3 separate regions of the Homo sapiens genome follow, and all the other regions are reported to be linked to region 1. Evidence: microRNA targets listed by miRTarBase, many of them from high-throughput screens and not tested one by one. Region 1 holds a microRNA gene; each other region holds the end of a gene's coding sequence.

Region 1 (3,000 bases):
CCAGGTTGGGCATAGTGGGGCCGAGGGATCATGGGAACCTCCTGATAGGAGCAGAAAGCCAATGTATAAGGGCTGGAATTACTACATTCAGCCTACTTATTTCTCAACCTAGAATTCTCAATCAAAACTTACTGTTTAGTCATTTCAATATACCACAGATATACAAAAAAGATGAAAGCAACTAGAGCTGTTAAACCTGGAAAAGTGAAGGTAGAGGACAAAACTGATAGGCTAAGTATCTCAATCTATGTTTTATGAAGCACTAATTGTGTAGTTGCTCTACGTAATCTAGGGGCCATATGAAAATGTGTGAAGGGAGACTAATTATTACAATGATTGGGGTATGCTACTGGTATTTAATGCCCAGGGTCCAAGGAAGCCAAACATTCTGAAATGCATCCCTCACAACAAGAACTATTCACCTAAACATGACAACAGCAACATTGTTAAGAAATACTGCCTAAATCTCTTCTTTTTTTAAAAATGACTTGCCCAAAATCACACATATAAAGATAGCAGAGCCAAGCACAGAACCCACTTAATGACTTAGGCAAGCCACTTACCCTCTCTCCTATGAAGTGAGCCTAACACTAACCTTTGCTGATTCTGAGTCCAGTGCTCTTTTCACTTAAACCACTGTCTAACATAAATGACGTTAAGGGTACCAAGTTCTGGATTTTGTAAGCTATTCCTTTCATGGACATCTGATAGTGTTTATAAAAACCTCAGTTTTGTTTTTTTTTGAAATGGAGTCTCGCTCTGTTGGCAGGCTGGGGTGCAGTGGTGCGATCTCGACCCACTGCAACTTCCGCCTCCAGATTCAAGTGAATTCTCCTGCCTTAGCCTCCCGAGTAGCTGGGACTACAGGCACGCAACACCACGCCCAGCTAATTTTTGTATTTTTAGTAGAGACGGGGTTTCACCATGTTAGCCAGGATGGTCTTTTTTTTTTTTTTTTTTTTTTTGGAGACTGAGTCTCACTCCGTCACCCGGGCTAGAGTGCAGTGGCGTGATCTTGGCTCATTGCAACCTCTGCCGCCCAGGTTCAAGTGATTCCCCTGCCTCAGACTCCCAAGTAGATGGGATTACAGGCGCCTGCCACTGCACCCGGCTAATTTTTTTTGCAGTTTTTAGTAGAGATGGGGTTTCACCATATTGGCCAGGCTGGTCTTGAACTCCTAACCCCATGATCCACCCGCCTTAGCCTCTCAAAATGCTGGGATTGCAGCCGTGAGCCACTGCGCCCGGCCGAGGATGGTCTTTATCTCTTGACCTTGTGATCTGCCCGCCTCGGCCTCCCAAAGTGCTGGGATTATAGGTGTGAGCCACCATGCCCAGCTTTTTTTTTTTTTTTTTTTTTGAGACAGTGTCTTGCTCTGTTGCCCAGGCTAGAATGCAGTGATGCGATCTTGGCTCACTGCAACCTCTGCCTCCTGGGTTCAAGTGATTTGCCTGCCTCAGACTCCTGAGTAGCTGGGATTACAGGCACCTGCCACTGTGCCTGGCTAAGTTTTGAATTTTTAGTAGAGACAGGGTTTCACCATCTTGGCCAGGCTGGTCTCAAACTCCTGACCTCATGATCCACTGCACCCGGCCTTTTTTTTTTTTTTTTTCTAAGAGATGGGGTCTTGCTCTGTCGCCCAGGCTGGAGTGCACTGGCATGATCTTGGCTTACTGCAACATCTGCCTCCCGGGTTCTAGCAGTTCTCTTGCCTCAGCCACCCAAGTACCTGAGACTTCAGGTGCACGCCTCCATGCCCGGCTAATTTTTTTTGTATTTTAGTAGAGATGGGGTTTCACCGTGTTGCCCAGGCTGGTCTCGAACTCCTGAGCTCAGGCAATCCATCCGCCTTAGCCTCCCAGTGTGCTAGGATTACAGGCATGAGCGACCGTGCCCGGCCAAAAACCTTAGTTTTATATAGTGCCATTCCTTCCACAGATTTCTAAGTATTTTATTTTCCCTTTGGTCATACTCCTGAAATAGGGAAGAACAGAATTATGACCCTTAATGTAAAGTTTAAGAAACCAAGGCCCAGAGAGGCTGAACAACCTATTAAAGGAAATTCTGCAAAGCAGGAGCAGGACAGGTGAGATACCATGTGCTACCTCTCCTACTTATAGATCAGAGTTTTATCAGAGGTTCAGCTTACCCTGTCCACAGGCCTTGGGTCACACTGCTCACAAAGGTAGTGCTCCACATCTGAGTTCACTCCCATACAATCACAGTGCTGCCATACCTGTAGAAAAACATACAGTTTGGGGAACATGGAGGCTATGACTTATTGAGAGTGTCCTGGGAGCCCAGAATAAAAAATTAGCAATAGGTCAGGGTAAAGTAAAAGAGGAACTAAGGGATAACTGGGTGAATGATAAATTAGAGATAAATGGTAAAATAGGAGGAAAACAAAATAATGACTGTTCTAAGCAAAAGTATACCGATTGACTCATAATCTATAGATCTGGGCAAATAAAATGGGGAGATGGACAGAGAATAGGAAAACAAATAGACTACTGAACTATTACTAAGTAATTTAAGTAAATGCTACAGCTATTCTGCTTTCAGAATACAGCTACAAAATGTTTTATTTACTCCTGTCTAACTTTAGCCTCCCAACAATCCTGTGCGTTACTTACAGCCACTTTACACATAAAGTTATGCATTCACATATATTAGTGGGGACACTAAGGCTCAAATCCAGGCTTTGACTTCTTCATCAGGAGCCCTACATGTATTAACATATTTCACTCTATCAGAGGATTCAATTAATAGAGTGTATTATCACTAATGATTCAAAAGGCAAAGCACTATATGAAATACTGTCATTTTCCTTGATCCAGATTATGTGAGAAGTGTACAGTGGAAAGTGGGCAGAAAGAAGGAAAGAGCCAGGCGTGGTGGCTCATGCCTGTAATCCCAACGCTCTGGGAGGCCGAGGTGGGCAGATCACTTGAGCTCAGGAGTTCAAGACCAGCCTGGGCAACATGGTGACACCCCATCTC
Region 2 (3,076 bases), not on the chromosome of region 1:
GTCTCTCTCCAGGAGCAGGTTAAGCTCCAGTCTCTCCTCCTAAGCTGGCTGTTCTGGGTCTGCAGTCAGGTTGCTGTTGAGAGAATGGCTGTTCAGAGGACGTTTAGGAGGGTAAAGGTGGGCCTGCCTGCAGACTGGCAGGCAAAACAGGGGCCCAGAACCCACTTCCCCACCCCACTCCTTTCCCTTGCGGGAGAGACTAATGCAGCTGAGATGAGAAAGGGAGATGACACGCGTAGTGATCAGACCACACTCCGGCTTGTGCATTCCCAAGGCTTCCTTCCTAGTTCATGCAGGGCCGGCCTACAAGTCAGGTCCCACTCCAGCTCCGAGACAATGGAAGCCCCCCAAAGCCAATCTCATTTGGGTATTGAGATGCAGTTAACGGCTGAGTGAGGTGGCTCACGCCTGTAATCCCAGCACTTTGGGAGGCCAAGGCAGGCGGATCATCTGAGGTCGAATTCGAGATCAGCCTGGCCAATACGGTGAAACCCCGTCTCTACTAAAAATACAACAATTAGCCGGGTGTGGTGGCACCCACCTGTAATCCCAGCTCCTTGGGAGGCTGAGGCAGGAGAATCTCTTGAACCCCAAAGGTGGAGGTTGCAGTGAGCCGAGATGGCGCCACTGCACTCCAGCCTGGGTGACAGAGCGAGACTCTGTCTCAAAACAAAACAAAACAAAAAGAACAAAAAAAGAACAGTGACCCTTAGGGGGAATTCTGGAGAAAGATCAGGGCAGAAATAAGTCCTGTCCCTGGTCCTGTAAGAGCAGCTGGAAGCCACGCAAGAGCACCATGACATTCGTTCAAGCCCCTCTTTCAGTCCTGGCACGGAAATCGCGACTGGAATCTGCTTCTAAGCCTCCCACCACATGACCCTGCCGGAGGGGAGCGCTCCATCTTTCAATACCCTCGTTATTTCCTGCAGCTGTGGAAGTCAGAAACGGAACGCACATTTTAGTACAAGTGGTTTATTTCTCTTCCAGGTGAGGCCGCATGTATATAAGCAAAGGTTTGCCCACCTGGTTCCTTCAGGAACTCCCCGAGGAATCTGTTTAGTTTCCATGCATTAAAAACAACCCTCTAGTTGCCAATAATGAAACTTTAAGAAGCAACACTTTGACGTCGCAGAGTTCCTCTCTGCATGTGACGCGGATATACCAAAGTGAGTTTATGGCATACAGTATGCATGGGTTAATGTAGGTGAGACAGGGAGTCCCGGCTGCCCTGTGGCCCCATTCTGTTGTGGAGGCTTCGCTGGGAGCTGAGAACACCCTGCTGTCCATGTTTTGATGACAGGTGGTTCTTCCAAAACAGAAGCACCGAGTCACCGCACGCCCCTGCTTCAGTGTGCGAGGCCGTGGGGCTCTGGTGTTGTGAACTCCAGGTTGGCAGGAGGTTGGAAGCACCAAAGACCCCAACTCTGGTCCCTCAACAGGCAGTATTGGGGGACATTATTCCCTCCTGGCCAATAAGCTCCTGTGGCCTGGGACACTGGGTGGGGACAGGTGGTGGGGGTGGGGCAGGGCAGAGGCCTATCCTCCTATAAAGACACAGTTGTAGCACTTTGCTAAAACCTTTTCTGGCAAACTTACTTGGAGACAACAGGGAGGGGACAGCTGATGTAGGCATTTGGCTAGTCCCCTAGAACAGGGAACTCTGGCTTTCCCTCTTGGCTTTTTTCTCCTCTTAAAGATCCTCCCTCTGTGGGTGAGATGAACCCAGATCCCCACCAAACAGTAGCTTGGGACAGGATGCCTCACTGATCCTTATTTAAGAATCGACTCCTTCCCGTCTCCTCCAGATCTGCAGATCTCCAGATCAGTGCCAGCAAAATCTGCAAAAGTAGTGACCTAACCAGGGTAAGGAATGAGCTGCAAATCTGTTGTAAAAACTGGATGTGCTAGGAGTTTCAATTCTTTGGATAATCAACATGTTTAAAACACTGGAGAAAAGAAAGACCTAAAGTCGTTTCAAAGTGTCTGTTCATACCTGAGACCATGCCTATCTGCAGCTAACACATTCTGCAGCATTGATTCTGGAATAGAGGCGAGGCAATGGAGGGTTAGGGAGACAGGCGGAATGTGGCAGGCTTTCACCTCTGTTCCCACCGGGGTTCACCAGCCTGTGATCCCCCAGCCCCGGAGCCACCAGCCCCCCACTGCAGAGCTTTCCTGATGCCTCCCCTCTGTGGCCCAGGAAGAGCCTGTCTGGCCCTGGGAACTCTGATTTGGGCTGTTCTGGTGTCAGCAGGGGTGCGAACTTCTTAAAGAGCATCTCCTGATCAGCCCTTCTCATGTTACCTGCAGGGAACGAGGACAGGGAACGAGGACAGAGGGGTCGTCTGGGCTCTTGGCTGGGCTGACAAGAGGCAGAGTCATCGTTGTGGGACCAGAGAGAACACACAGCTCTCTTGATGGTGGTGCCTGACCTGGCCCCCTCCTCACTGCCACTCCCCTCCTGGCAAGGGCGAGGCGTAGGGGTGAGCAGGGCCAGGCAGCCAGCTCAGGGATGGTACCTCTGAGGCAGCCAAGCACCTGGGGGCATTTCTGGTGTGGAGAGCAGGGCAAAAGAGAGAGGCTGGCCCGCGTGGTGAGTCTTCTGCACCCCCTGGGGCTTTGGTCGGGAATCCCAGCTGCTCCTCTGCCACAGCAGGAGGCCTCTCGGGCTCCAGATGCCTTTGGTTTCTATTAAAGAAACGCAGCTTGTATTTGCACTAATTAAAAACCAGAACGGAAAAAGGAGGCAGGAACCCCCGAAAGTCTGTTAGGCTGGAAACTGATTCCCGTAGTGCCTCAGGTGCTCATCCGCCACAGACAGGTAGGTGGCTCTCATGCTGGGAGAGTACTGCCAAGAGAGAAGAGAGGGGATGGTCAGAGCTGAGTCAGCCAAGCACTGCACCAGCAAAGGTGCCGGGGACTTCTCAGAGTGGAACTGGGTCGGGTGTCAGAGGGAAACCCGGCCGTGCCTCCACCCCACATCCATCAAGACTTCTGCCTCCCAGCCTCAAATAAAAAATGCACACACAGACCAGCTGTCCTCCAATGTCCACTCCGCCCCAGCACACACCCCCAG
Region 3 (3,076 bases), not on the chromosome of region 1:
TTTTTGTTTTGTTTTTTTTTTTTAACTTAATAGATATTTCTAAAAGTGAGAGACAGAAGTCTTTGAAATTTGACCAGGTTCATCCTGAAATGGGTAGAACCGTCCTAAATTTGAACAGCACTGCTTTATGCCAAGACATCAAGCAACCAATTCCGCAGGTTTTCTGTACTTTGTGGGTTTTCTCTGGCCTTCCATCAGCAGGATCGCCCCACTCGCGTGTAAGGACAGAAAACCATGGTTGACTTTTCCCCTTGCAGGCCTGCCCAGGTGACTTTCAGAAGCCTGGCCTCGAGGGGCTGGAGATTCACCAGCATTAGGTGAGAAATGGATCATGGCACCCGTGTGGAGGAACTGGGGAATTCTGAAAAATGCAGCTCTTGGGGCACAGGGGCCCGGGGTCTGGGTGGGCTTCCCCTGTTCCCTGGGGTGGCCAGGCATGTGACCAGGCAGGAAGCAGACTGGGCAATGGGCCTGCCCTGGGCTTTGCAGCCTCATTGCTCTTGGCGTGAGGAGCTGGGGGTCGGGGGGCGAGGTCACACCTTCCTCACACTGAACATGTGCAAATCTGATCATATGTATGGTCCTAGGGAAGGGCGGGGAGGGAAGAGACAAGGGAGGGAAAGAACAAGGGGATTTGTTCTTGTTTCCCACCCACCCACTTTTATGCCCCAGAGTGGAGGGAAAACAGGAATTTACTCTTCTCCCACGTGGTCTCAGATCCTGTGTGTCTCAAACAGAGCAAGCACCTCATGGCAAAGAGGATGATCGTAGAGTTTACATCTGTCCCTCTTTTTTATATAATTAAAAAACCTGAAAGTTGGTTTGCATGACACTGGACATTACTGGATATACTGTGCACATATTACTACACAGGGAATTTACACAGACCCCACATTCTGTCTTACTGGGTGATTCAAGGACTCTTCAAGGGCTTTTTGATTTGACCCAGCTGTGTCATATGCAGTGATTTTAGAACGAAGCCCAGCCTGAGCTCTGTTGCTTTTAGATTTTTCCTCAATCTGAAGAAAAGCGTTTGGACTGTGGTGTTTGAAAACAAGCCTGTGTGTTCTGCAGTGAAGCCGCACACTCACCCCTTTGGTTCTTTTCTAGGCTTTCTTATCTTCACAGGCAGAAATGGCTTAAACGGGAGTTTCTACAATCGACTAAGCTTCCGACACAGCAGAATCCCACGATCCCACAACCCATTTGTTTTTTACGTGAAACAGGCCTCGGGGGAGAGATTTGAGGGGGTTTTATTCTTAAAACGGCACATTTGTAGAGAATGCCCTTTATATATGTTCTAAAGAAAAGTGTACAAATACTCAATGATTAAAGTGTCTCTGAGAAAGTGGCTTCGGACCACACCAGCATCTGGTCCTTTTGCTGTGACCCACCCCATCCCGGAGCTGGTCGGGTCTGGCTGGATGTGCTGCCCAGTGAGTGCCTCGCTCGGTAACTGCTTGGTCCTGAACATTCTCTCGTTTCAGGAACTGATGAGGTTCTCTTCTTTTGACTGATGGAGATTACAAAACTCTTGGATTCCTGGAAAACAAGACGACAGGCATAGAGTGCTAATGGCTTGTCTACCCCTTGACAGCCCTGTCCTGTGCTGGGGAGGGCTGTGTTTTGACAGGGGTGGAATCCTCTGGCTAGTTCCATAAAAAGACCTGTGTCTGTGATGCCCTGAGTCTTTGAAAGTGACCGGAATACCTCACACTACCCATCTTGCTCATAACCAGTGGCTGCGGCCTTCCTCGGACCATCTATAGATGGAGGATTCTGGGAATGCTGTTTCCTTACCCTTGACATCATTCTTCTAGGCAAGTAAAACCCAGCCACAAACTCAGAGACCACAGCTTTAACAAACACTGACACCTCTGCCCTAACTCTGGGGCCTCTGATGGCTGCCACTGGCTGAATGTGGCCTGCACGTGGGTTTGGTCTGGCTCAACAAAGTTTTTATTTTTATTTTTTATTTTTTTGAGACACGGTCTCACGCTGTTGCCCAGGCTGGAGTGCAGTGGCGCGATCTCGCCTTACTGCAGCCTCCGCCTCCCAGGTTCAAGCGATTCTCCTGCCTCAGCCTCCTGAGTAGCTGGGACTACAGGCATGCGCCACCACACCCGGCTAATTTTCATATTTTTAGTAGAGACAGTGTTTCTCCATGTTAGCCAGGCTGGTCTTGAACTCCTGACCAGCCTCAAGTGATCTGCCTGCCTCCTTCACCCAAAGTGCTGGGATTCCAGGTGTGAGCCACTGCACCTGGCCTTTTTTTTTTTTATCAGTTACTTTTAAAAATGAATTACTTTATCCCTTTATTGGGATGTATTTCCTAAGCCATAAATTTCACCCTCACCATGTTTTTTAAACTATGAATTAATTCACAATACTCACACATTGAGAGATTTCTCATGGACTCCTGGCTTCCTCGGCTATGGGGGCCACTCTGTGGTCATCACAGACCCCACCACCCACCTGTCCTTCCACACCCCTGGCTCCTTTATGTTGCTTCCTGCCCCACAGGCATCTGCATTTAGTACTCATGGAAATACTTACTCTGAATTATACTTCTGTAGGCTAACGTGGCTGGGGAATCTGGGGCGTCAATGAAAAAAGACTGGCCTTTGTCACAATTCTTACCTTAAAAAAGAAACAAACGGAAGACAATTCAGTCCAAGAGGAAAACAGAATGGCCACAAGATCTTGGGGCTCTTTCCGTGCTGGTGACAATGGGAAGATCTTGAGCCCGCTTCACTCGTAATGAAGAACAAAGTAGAAAAGACCAGTGGGGTCTCAGGGACCTTCCTTCCAGCAGGGTCCCCAGCCAGCATTTCAGCGTGGCTAAATAATCAGGTGGTGTACAGAAAATGCAGGTTCCAGGGCCCTACAGAGAACTGATTCAGCAGCTTCCACATGGGCCCAGGAGTCTGCATTTTAAGAGATTAGCTTTTGAGTGAAAGGATCATGAATGCACATGGTTAAAAAAAGTACAGAATGCAAAAGGATATGGCATAAAAGGCCAAGTCCGAAAAGGGCTACTAGTGTTCTAGGTGTCTTTCCAGAAAGATTATGCGCA

Evidence for each region. The annotated mature microRNA hsa-miR-555 reads AGGGUAAGCUGAACCUCUGAU and lies in region 1 at 2,133-2,153, opposite strand. An mRNA with a match to its seed (bases 2 to 7 or 8) in the 3' UTR can be bound and repressed. Matches are read on the target gene's strand: a 7mer-m8 pairs with bases 2 to 8, a 7mer-A1 pairs with bases 2 to 7 and ends in A, and an 8mer does both.
Region 2: miRTarBase lists TTYH2 as a target of hsa-miR-555. Seed matches in the 3' UTR shown: 7mer-m8 at 1,862-1,868.
Region 3: the mRNA of TVP23A is a reported target of hsa-miR-555. Seed matches in the 3' UTR shown: 7mer-m8 at 1,796-1,802.

Annotation. Positions count from the first base shown.
Region 1 is chr1:155,344,233-155,347,232 of GRCh38, forward strand. MIR555 (microRNA 555) reads right to left here and starts at 2,213; the gene lies at 2,118-2,213. ASH1L (ASH1 like histone lysine methyltransferase) reads right to left here. Exons shown (of 28, transcript NM_018489.3): 21 at 2,151-2,237; 22 at 1-41.
Region 2 is chr17:74,259,901-74,262,976 of GRCh38, reverse strand. It overlaps TTYH2 (tweety family member 2), which reads right to left. Exons shown (of 14, transcript NM_032646.6): 14 at 957-2,848. The coding sequence ends at 2,768. Among named protein-coding and RNA genes, the nearest start is that of DNAI2, 13 kb to the left of the region's middle.
Region 3 is chr16:10,767,513-10,770,588 of GRCh38, reverse strand. TVP23A (trans-golgi network vesicle protein 23 homolog A) reads left to right here. Exons shown (of 8, transcript NM_001079512.4): 7 at 258-317; 8 at 1,488-3,076. The coding sequence ends at 317. It overlaps NUBP1 (NUBP iron-sulfur cluster assembly factor 1, cytosolic), which reads right to left. Exons shown (of 11, transcript NM_002484.4): 10 at 2,557-2,640; 11 at 1,238-1,542. The coding sequence ends at 1,484. Among named protein-coding and RNA genes, the nearest start is that of NUBP1, 25 kb to the right of the region's middle.